2 linked regions of the Homo sapiens genome follow. The protein of the gene in region 1 interacts with the protein of each later gene in a biochemical or structural test. Each region holds a gene or a part of one and is shown in the gene's direction. Other genes may lie near its edges.

Region 1 (3,484 bases):
GTGGATAGCTGAGGGATTGCAAAGAGGTGCCCAGCAGGAGCCAGGCCTTATGGAAAAGGGACTTTGTGTGAAGGCGTTGGCCAGTAATAAGTTCACCTGAGCCATAGACACTCACAGAGCAAAAAGTAGGGCCAAACAACTTTTTGCTCTTTCCCAAGTCTGCTCTTTATTCTGAGGGTCAGAGAGGACAGAGACCCAGCATACGGAAGAAGGTGCCAGTTCTCTGGTCAAGGCCACTCAATGTCACATGTTCCTGGTTTGTTGCAGGTGGTAGCCTTGGCAGTTTCCCCCAGGCAAAATGAGCAGGCACAAACCCATTCAGTAAGTTGCCCCTTTCTGGGCTCCTCAGGGGTGAAGGGATTGGCCAGGTGACTTAAGCTCCCATTTTCAGGTTGTTTGCTGAGGACACGAGAGAACTATTGGGTCAGTGCCAATGGGATTCTGCCATCCCCACCTGTAAACAAACCCCTGTCGTTTCCACCCCAGCCCCAGGTTGAAAAGCTGGCATGTGAGAGTAGTGTGATCTGAACAGAGTGCACACCCTGCAACCCACACTTCCCTAGGCCAAGCCTCGTTCTCTCCAATGCCAGACTTATTTCAGTTGCAGTGGTGGTGCCTCATAGTGGCAAAGGACAGGCTGGTAAAACATGCTCATCTGCAAGTCCAGGCAACCTGTGCCCCACCTAGCCTCATAGAGGACAGCAGGTGGAAAAGGCTGCACTTGTGGGGAAATTGATGGACATAGCTGGATTTCTCACAAGCCCAACTCTAACTTCTTGCTTATATCTGCCCCCGACCTTTTTTTTTTTTTTTTTGCATTCTCCTTCCTTCTCTCAGTAGGACGCCTCGTCTAAGGAGCAGAAAACCCAAGGGCAGGTGGAGAGTCCAGGGAGGCAGGATGGATCACCAGACACCTAACCTTCAGCGTTGCCCATGGCCCTGCCACATCCCGTGTAACATAAGTGGTGCCCACCATGTTTGCACTTTTAATAACTCTTACTTGCGTGTTTTGTTTTTGGTTTCATTTTAAAACACCAATATCTAATACCACAGTGGGAAAAGGAAAGGGAAGAAAGACTTTATTCTCTCTCTTATTGTAAGTTTTTGGATCTGCTACTGACAACTTTTAGAGGGTTTTGGGGGGGTGGGGGAGGGTGTTGTTGGGGCTGAGAAGAAAGAGATTTATATGCTGTATATAAATATATATGTAAATTGTATAGTTCTTTTGTACAGGCATTGGCATTGCTGTTTGTTTATTTCTCTCCCTCTGCCTGCTGTGGGTGGTGGGCACTCTGGACACATAGTCCAGCTTTCTAAAATCCAGGACTCTATCCTGGGCCTACTAAACTTCTGTTTGGAGACTGACCCTTGTGTATAAAGACGGGAGTCCTGCAATTGTACTGCGGACTCCACGAGTTCTTTTCTGGTGGGAGGACTATATTGCCCCATGCCATTAGTTGTCAAAATTGATAAGTCACTTGGCTCTCGGCCTTGTCCAGGGAGGTTGGGCTAAGGAGAGATGGAAACTGCCCTGGGAGAGGAAGGGAGTCCAGATCCCATGAATAGCCCACACAGGTACCGGCTCTCAGAGGGTCCGTGCATTCCTGCTCTCCGGACCCCCAAAGGGCCCAGCATTGGTGGGTGCACCAGTATCTTAGTGACCCTCGGAGCAAATTATCCACAAAGGATTTGCATTACGTCACTCGAAACGTTTTCATCCATGCTTAGCATCTACTCTGTATAACGCATGAGAGGGGAGGCAAAGAAGAAAAAGACACACAGAAGGGCCTTTAAAAAAGTAGATATTTAATATCTAAGCAGGGGAGGGGACAGGACAGAAAGCCTGCACTGAGGGGTGCGGTGCCAACAGGGAAACTCTTCACCTCCCTGCAAACCTACCAGTGAGGCTCCCAGAGACGCAGCTGTCTCAGTGCCAGGGGCAGATTGGGTGTGACCTCTCCACTCCTCCATCTCCTGCTGTTGTCCTAGTGGCTATCACAGGCCTGGGTGGGTGGGTTGGGGGAGGTGTCAGTCACCTTGTTGGTAACACTAAAGTTGTTTTGTTGGTTTTTTAAAAACCCAATACTGAGGTTCTTCCTGTTCCCTCAAGTTTTCTTATGGGCTTCCAGGCTTTAAGCTAATTCCAGAAGTAAAACTGATCTTGGGTTTCCTATTCTGCCTCCCCTAGAAGGGCAGGGGTGATAACCCAGCTACAGGGAAATCCCGGCCCAGCTTTCCACAGGCATCACAGGCATCTTCCGCGGATTCTAGGGTGGGCTGCCCAGCCTTCTGGTCTGAGGCGCAGCTCCCTCTGCCCAGGTGCTGTGCCTATTCAAGTGGCCTTCAGGCAGAGCAGCAAGTGGCCCTTAGCGCCCCTTCCCATAAGCAGCTGTGGTGGCAGTGAGGGAGGTTGGGTAGCCCTGGACTGGTCCCCTCCTCAGATCACCCTTGCAAATCTGGCCTCATCTTGTATTCCAACCCGACATCCCTAAAAGTACCTCCACCCGTTCCGGGTCTGGAAGGCGTTGGCACCACAAGCACTGTCCCTGTGGGAGGAGCACAACCTTCTCGGGACAGGATCTGATGGGGTCTTGGGCTAAAGGAGGTCCCTGCTGTCCTGGAGAAAGTCCTAGAGGTTATCTCAGGAATGACTGGTGGCCCTGCCCCAACGTGGAAAGGTGGGAAGGAAGCCTTCTCCCATTAGCCCCAATGAGAGAACTCAACGTGCCGGAGCTGAGTGGGCCTTGCACGAGACACTGGCCCCACTTTCAGGCCTGGAGGAAGCATGCACACATGGAGACGGCGCCTGCCTGTAGATGTTTGGATCTTCGAGATCTCCCCAGGCATCTTGTCTCCCACAGGATCGTGTGTGTAGGTGGTGTTGTGTGGTTTTCCTTTGTGAAGGAGAGAGGGAAACTATTTGTAGCTTGTTTTATAAAAAATAAAAAATGGGTAAATCTTGGCGGCTGTTGCCTCTTTCTTTGGGTGGCTTCCTTTAATGAAAAGGCTTTATTTCCTAGAAAGCTTAGTTCGTTTCCCTGGCCTGGGTGCTCTCCACTTCCATCCAAGGACATCTGAGGTGCTGCCAATGATGAACCTAGCAGGGGACCCGGAAGTGGCCAGTGTGGTACTGCACCTAGAGAGGGGACTCCCTTGCTAAAGGTGTTTGTGCACTCTCTGTAATTCTTCCTCTTACCTCCACCCACATGTCTGCCCCACGGGATGCCCCTCCCTGACTGCCATTCCCTTCCTCTCACTGGAATGTAGGGAATGTTGCTGGCAGAGCTTTGGGGGCAGGGCTTGGGGAAGAGCCTATTCCATGGCTTCAGGCTGTTGAAAGTGGGTACATTGCCATCATCCAGATGACAAGACGCCAGGCTGAAATGTAGCCATAGGTGGGGAGCAGACCCCCAGTGGAGTTTTTCAGCCTGTACCCCAGTTTTGTGGGGTATCTATTCTGGCTGAGGCTGCAGGTCTGGTTTGC
Region 2 (7,661 bases), on another chromosome or scaffold:
GCTTTTCTCAAGGTAATTCACATTGTAAGCAGTTGGGCCAAATAGAACCCAAGACTGTGTGCTAATATCATATATTTTCCATTATGCAGCCAATTAGTTGATCAGTCAATCATTTCATAGGAACATTAATCAACCTCCAAGTGCTTTGGGTCTGTACAGGTGAAAAGCACAGTCCTTGGCCTCAAGGAGTCCTCACAGACCAGCTGGGCAAATGAATGAGTAAATTGATGATAACAATTAAGGTCTCTAATCATTTCATAAAAGTCACTTCAAGAATGCCTTTATTGCTTACCTCCAAAATCTGTGACAGGTCGTATGCTATTCTAAACACTATGATATGTAGGAATGATATTCAAAATAATTAACAAATAACATGACATAGGCAGCAGCCATCAACAGATGCTGGCAACAAAGAGAACTGCTGACAAACAGATGGAAAGGCACAGTGTCTACCCTCAGGTGTCCATGATCTAGCAGGGTAAACAGGCAAGAGAAATAAAATGTGCAACATACTAAAAGTTAAAAAATGGTGGTGTAGATGAGCATGAAGGAGAGGCCCTTCTCTCTGGATGTGAGGGTCATAAAACTTTGTTAGAAGAAGCACTATGAAGGAACTCTTGAAAAAAATAATAAAGGAATTTGTCATGGCAATAAGACAGGGTTCTTCCTAGGGAAGTGAATGTGCAAAGGCTTGGAGACTTCTAAATTATTTCTTTAAAGATTTTACTTGAGAGTTTTGAGTTGCTATAATCCCTGGGAATTCCCCACTTGCTAACCAGGACCCTGTGTGTCAGCGGGGAAAGCGATTTTCCCAAAGTCACACAGCGAGTTGATGCAGCATCAAGACTTAGACACTCAACCAATGCTCTCCACTCTGCTGTGCTGACCAGGCATGACTTCTTGGTTGATGGCGCAGCTAAATTGCCATAGTCCATCCATCAGAGAAGCTCTCATATGTCTTGCCACACACTCCATATGGTCTTTGAACTTGATTTTGTCCTTTGTTGTCGAAGGAAAAGCAAGAAGAGTTGGAAAAGACCACTCAACAATGATCTGCAAGCAAGTTGGGAAACCTTGACTCTAACAAAATGCATTTAATTAAATGACTGGCCCACTGTGTGGGATCAGAGATCCATCCCGGCTTTGGAAAAGATTTCTGGTAATTATGGAGTCACATGAGACTTTTGGACTGGAGTTAGCACACCAGATGAGATGAATCCCGGGAAGAGGAGGAGGAAGGTTGGGAACAGTGAAGGAGTATGTAATCAGAGTAGGAAGCAGGGGATTCCATGGGGAAGTGGACACTCAGCTTCCTCAGCACTAGTCCTGGCCAAAATTCCACTCATTGTCTGTTCTGTCTGGAAGAAAAAGTATTACATTTAACAGACCTTTAAAGAAATGAGAATGATCTCACCTGAGGCAAACCATGACATTCCTCTGGTCTCTAAACCACAGCCTCCACCAGCAACTCCTGAATAAGAACTGCAAACAAGCAACAACAAAATCAGTCTTTGGCAGGAAGCTCTGTGCAGGGGTGGTGTTTACATGCATTCATTCTACCCTCTCAAGTGGAAAAAAGTGCTTATGCTTCTCAGAAGGATGCAACCATGAGGGATTAGATGCCAAGAGGTATGGCCTCTGCCAAACAGGAGGAAAAATGGTTCTTCATTTCCATAAACTTCCTCTGCTGTAATGTCTAGTGTGGCTTGGTTGCTCAGTTCTGATTGTGACAGTTTTCTTCCTGGAAAGCAGGCATAGTGGCTTCAGACAAGTCATTCTTCCTCTCAGCACCCCACTTTCTGATCTGTGCGATGGAAGCATTGGACACAATAATCCAGTTTCCTTTTCAGGTTCTATGGTTGTAAAAGGAAGAATTTAATTATAAAGCACAACATGTCAAACATTTATTTGTTCCTCCATTACTTCATTCATTCTATAAACATTTACTGAGCTTCTATGATACCCAAGGCTCTATGCCAGGTACAGAAAAAGCAAGTGTGATCACCAGCCTCAGGAAGCCTAGCATCTAGGAGGAAAATCTAGACATGCACATGTGTAATTATACCATGTAGATGCAATGGATGTCCTAATAGAGTTACAAATGCCATAGTGCATAGAAACATCTCTTCCTAGATGGATTTCTTCCATTTAGGAAGCTCCATAGTGAAGTCAGATCAGAAATGGATGATAAATAGATGTGAGGGCATGGAGGTGAGGAGCCTAGGGCATCATCCTAGCATGAACAAAGTTTGGGTATTGTAGAGTACCTGGTGCATATGGACCCATCTACCAGAAACAGAGGCTGCGAACAGTACAGGGATGGAAAACACGTCCTCGTCTGGGCACTCCTTACTCAAATGCCAAAAAGCTTAAGATGCCACATAGCTTTTTGGAGAAAATGCCTTTTACAAGTAGCCTCTCCTAAAAATGCATAAATCATCTCTTCTCTATGTTATCAGAATACACTTATATGATAGTTGTTAACTTAACCCATAATAGTATTCTTGTTTGTCACCTCTGCTAGCCTTTTCCTGCTTTGAGGGCCAGCCTGGTCATATTTGGCTTAGTTTCCCTGTGATTGACCATACCACTTGTGGTAGACACTAATCAACGATTGTAGAATCCTAAAGAACTGGGGAGAGGAGTTCGAGTTTGAGACATTCCCCGAAAAAGCCATATCTATCTAGTTTTCTAGCATGCGCTCTTGTCTTATTTAAAAACTCACATAGAATTATAAATATATTGATTATATGTTCTATACAAATATAGTTTATATACCATATGACATATATTGTACACTATTCTAATATTTTAATCCCTAACCCAAGAGATTAACTCAGTAGGAACCACTCACTGCTGGTTGAGACACAGCTTCATGCTACTGAAATATCCTTTGGCTAAAGCACAGAATTTAAAACTTCCCAAACAACCAACATTTGAATCAGCCAAAATGGATCAAAAGTTCAAATGAGCGGTTTTATGACATGACTATTTATGGGCTTTCTTGCTGTCTGGGAGGGTCACTTTAGCAGAGAATCCTAAAATACTACAGCCAAAGCAACCGTAGGATGACCTAATCGTGTCTTGCTTTTTTTTTCAGATGGGGAAACTGAGGCCCACAGCAACAATAATAACTGTGGGGATGATATCATTTAATATTGAAAATAAGTGGATAATTGAGACCTCCATTATTAGTAGTTAATTTTTAAAAATCAAAGATCTCTCCTAATTAGCTTTATGGAGCAAATAAATATATTTTCCATATTCAAATATGGCTGTGATTTCTACACAAATGGTGTTAACAATCTAATACAGCATAAAACATTGTTTAAATATCATCATACCCTATTCCTAAACAGTAACGTGTAATAGATCTCTGGAGCCCAGTGTTGTAATATAAACACTTCCCAGGTGTATTCCCTTGGTAAAGTTTCATTACTTCTCTAAACGTCAGTTTTCTTGTGTAAAAAAGAGACACTTGTGTCTATCCTACTTACTGGTTACAAGGATATAATAAAAATAGTGAACAAAAATAGTGTTCATAAAGTACCCTGCACAGCACCTGATTATAGACTTAATAAGGGAGGGCTCAATGGTAGTTGCGTTTTGAATTACATTTAATGCTTCATTTTACTTCACTGTCACAAACTACTATGCTCTGCGGCAGGCTCAGAAGTCTCTAGGCACGGGTGAAGTGCTACTTCTCCACTCCCTTAAATGCCCCTGTATGCCCTGAGGATACTCAATGCATGCTAACCACCAAACGAACGGATGACTCAGAGCTTGGAGGAAATCCACGGCAGGCTGGAAAGCAAAGGCGCAGCTTATGGCTCAAGGATTAGGTTGTTACCTTTTTAAATTATTGCTTTTCTTTAAAGAAAGGGCTGTGGGGGACGCCTTTCAGCACTAAGAGAAAACCTCAGAAATCCTTCCCCCTGGAGACCCAGCTGAGAAGACCACACCAGGCACAGGGCATGAACAATGTCAAAAAGCTACTGCCCTGCAGGACACTGGGGCTGGAACAAAGATGCCTCCCAGCAGCTGGGCAAGGCTGGCTCCCACACAAGAAAAGCAGGGCTGATGTGAGCGTCCCGCACGATCCCCACCTGCTGAGACCTAATCCTGGGTTATCTCTCCGCTGGCCCAGAGAAACCTGAAACCCCCCAGGCTTTTGAAGGGCTTTATCTCCTCTTTCCAGGAACTGGGCTCAGTCCCTGTACTCGCTCCGAGGTGCCACTGAGCAGCTGCTGCCCAGAGCCCAGGCGAGCCCTGGTCCCATTTCCAGCTTGACCAAGTACAAGAGGGGAGCCAGGGCTGCGGATCCTACTCCCTCTTGCTCCCCAGGCATCCGTCTCACAATTAGAAAACCCGTGTGGGGAGCAAAGCAAAAATCACATTTCACTAACAGCTACTCGGGGTCGGGGGCGGGCAGGCGGGAATTCCTACTTTCGCCATAAATTGTATGCAAATGGGTTCCTTCCCTGGCCGAGAGCCAGGAGTGAGTGCGTCTTTCATGAGCTAACCCTGTTCCGCTGGGAGGGCTGTTCCTTTAATTCGCCAACTGAAAAAGTGGGAAAGGATGTCTGGAGGCGAGGCGTCCCATTACAGAGGAAGGAGCTCGCTATATAAGCCAGCCAAAGTTGGCTGCACCGGCCACAGCCTGCCTACTGTCACCCGCCTCTCCCGCGCGCAGATACACGCCCCCGCCTCCGTGGGCACAAAGGCAGCGCTGCTGGGGAACTCGGGGGAACGCGCACGTGGGAACCGCCGCAGCTCCACACTCCAGGTACTTCTTCCAAGGACCTAGGTCTCTCGCCCATCGGAAAGGTAAGTCTGTTTTGCCCTCATCACTAGAGATCCTTATGATGTAAGGATTGCATTCCTGGTACCAAATGAGTTGTGATTTTATATTATAATTACAAAACATATGGGGTTTTTTTTTCCACCGCTGGAAAAAAAAGGAGTGTGTATTGGTTATATCAGATGCACCTTGACTTTTCTGGTCTTGTAATTTTGTTTGTTTTAACTTTATGAATAGTCAGACTTGGAAGGAACTTTTCGTAAAGTTGTTATCTTCTGCTGTTCTGCAGAGGAAAAGTAAAAATTTTCTCTTCAACTGCTCTCCTACTTCTAGTCTGGCTGATTCACCTGTATATATCTTTTATTTTGAGGGTTAGGGCAGTAGAGTTTTAAGGCAGACTTTGCTCATAGCCTGCCCCTGGGATGGGTTAGAGGGAGTTTGATAGAGGAGTGCAGGGAGAATATAAAAGTTTATATCTAAACAGCACTTACATAAAGTTTACAAAGAGTTTTGTACCCATTCCCTCATTTGGTCCTCAAAATATTCACCCTGGAAATGAGAGCTGGGGGACAGAAGAGAGGAGGTGGCTCCTGGGCCAGATGAATAACTGACAGGCAGCTAGAGAGTGGTGGAGAACAGCTTTACTGGGGTGCCTAGAGCCAGCAGCGTCCCACATGTCTCTAGAATCACCTCCTCCTCCTCACCTCTCATCACAGAAAGATCTGAGCAACAACATCCCCCAGGTATGGGAACCCTGCTGCCCCTGGTGTACTTTGGAAAGAACACAGGGGTTCTTCTCACCCATCAGTGTTGTAAGAGGAATAAGAGCTTAGGTTTGAAGCCAGAGGTGTTTGGTATTCTCCCCACCACCATACATATGACCCTGAGAAAGATACATCACTTCCTTAATCCTCAGTTTTCACATCTCTAAAATGGGGACAATAGCGTCTGCTGTCGTTTTGAGGAGAAAATGAGGTATAGAAAGATCAGCAATGACTGCTTAATAACTGGAAGTTTGGATAATCATTGTCATTGCCAAAAACTGCCATCACTCTGGAAGTTAAAAGAGGCATTGAGCCAGTCTTGGATTGTTTCTTGTGTGTTGTTCCTCAGCCCGCCCCCAGCCCCCGCTTTTTATCTCACCCAATCTGAGGGTGTCTCACTAGGCTGGCAGGTCTGAGACTTGGCTGTATTTTACAAGCAGGAGGTTGTGTTGGCACAGGTTGGAGAAAAGGTAGTAGCCCGGGGCTGGAAGTTAATGTCAAATTTTGATTCCAGAATGTCAGGAGGTTTTGAGTTTAGGCATCTGCAGATTCTAAAGCTGACAGCTATGAAGTACGATGCTGTTGGAAACTCTTTGGAAAAGCTTTCTGTCCGGAGGGAGGGCAGGACAGGGAGCACCACTTGAAGAATGAATGCCTCTTTTTCATGTTTTTGTAGACTTTTTCCCCCATTTTTACAGAGCTTTCCCATATGTGTTTTAGAAAGGAAAACTACTATCCATCCCAGCCAGGCAAGCCCAATTCAGGACTGAAGAAGATTTATTCAGTCCTAGACAACCAAGTGAAGAGTTTCTGGCTTTGTGCGCATACAAGTCATTTGCAGGAGATGTAAGTCAGCGTGCTTTGGCCCTTGCATTTCAGGAAGGTGACTGCTTTGTGGGGAAGAAAAAGGTGCACAATATGAGTATTCTCTGGTTTGCTCAAACAGGGTAAATTGGACAAGGATTGAAAGGGATGTTGCCAAGCTCTACAGTCATTAAATATTTTTTTCCTCTATGCTTTGTTTTAAAAACCTAGCTTCTCTATTTTATCCCACACTAACCTCCTCCTTCCCCACTCTAAGAAGTGACTAACGTTTCAGCCCTCAACTTTGTCATTCATATAATGGAGATGACAAACTATGTCTCACAGGGCTCTTGCAACATTCAAATGAGGTAATATATGGCAAACACTTGGCATAGTACCTTCCACATATTAAGGGTTCAATAAATGGAAACTTTTCTTAGTTTCTCTGTTTATCATTTTACAAGGACTTGTCCAAGATTAATATTCTAAGATCATGATTTTTAAACTTATTTTTAATGATGAAAATATTCATTACATGAATTTAGGGCAAACCCCCAGTATATGACAGGTAAATGCAGGGCTGCTTTGGTTGAAGTGGGGTCACAAGGTCTAAAACTTACACCTTTGCTCTTAGCCTCTGGGACATTGCCACAGAATCTTCAATGACAAAAAGCACATTTACAAATCATGAAACCAGGCTGTGTGCATTCTGGTTGCCATTCTGCCCTTCAACAAGGATTTTTGCCCCTCTGAGTCACCATCTGTAGCAGAAGTAAGAGCAAGTCCACAAATAGTGTAATAGACAGGAATATGAATGAGAAATAAAAGACTTAACAAAGGCTATTTTAATTAATTCTAATGACAATGATAGCCAAAATATATGATGAGCCTACTCTCTAAACTGTAGGCTTTTGTGGGATCATCCACAGCATGTCTCTGAGGTATGGACTATATTTGTTGGACAAAGAGATGGCTTCAAGAACAGGGAGACTGAATAACTTTACCAAGGTCCTAGAACTCAGAGTGATACAGCCAGGTTTCACACCCAGGTCCCCGTGATCACCAAGTCAGAGGTACATTCTGCCGTGTTCCTTCTGAATGCTTCTCTGCTTCTTGCCTGCCTTTAGAAGGAAAACACTTCCTTTCTGACTAAATATGCCCCTCCAGGCAGACTGTGGCCACCCATAAATACAGCAGTAGCCTGATCATATAACCAGAATGGAATTTGGAAAGAGAATTCAAGCTGACAGAATGAAAAACATATCCCCCTTAATCCTACCCTTTCTAATGCT

What was found. The genes of interacting proteins can lie anywhere in the genome.
Region 2: the proteins of SMOC1 (region 1) and TNC form a complex in vitro, tested with the Homo sapiens proteins (one study listed by BioGRID).

Annotation. Positions count from the first base shown.
Region 1 is NC_000014.9:70,029,405-70,032,888, forward strand, and holds the end of SMOC1 (SPARC-related modular calcium-binding protein 1 isoform 1 precursor), read left to right. Parts: intron 1-837; coding exon 838-854; 3' UTR 855-2,962; downstream 2,963-3,484. UniProt on the Homo sapiens protein: Plays essential roles in both eye and limb development. Probable regulator of osteoblast differentiation.
Region 2 is NC_000009.12:115,115,148-115,122,808, reverse strand, and holds the start of TNC (tenascin isoform 1 precursor), read left to right. Parts: upstream 1-4,651; 5' UTR 4,652-4,827; intron 4,828-6,285; exon of another isoform or gene 6,286-7,661. UniProt on the Homo sapiens protein: Extracellular matrix protein implicated in guidance of migrating neurons as well as axons during development, synaptic plasticity as well as neuronal regeneration. Promotes neurite outgrowth from cortical neurons grown on a monolayer of astrocytes.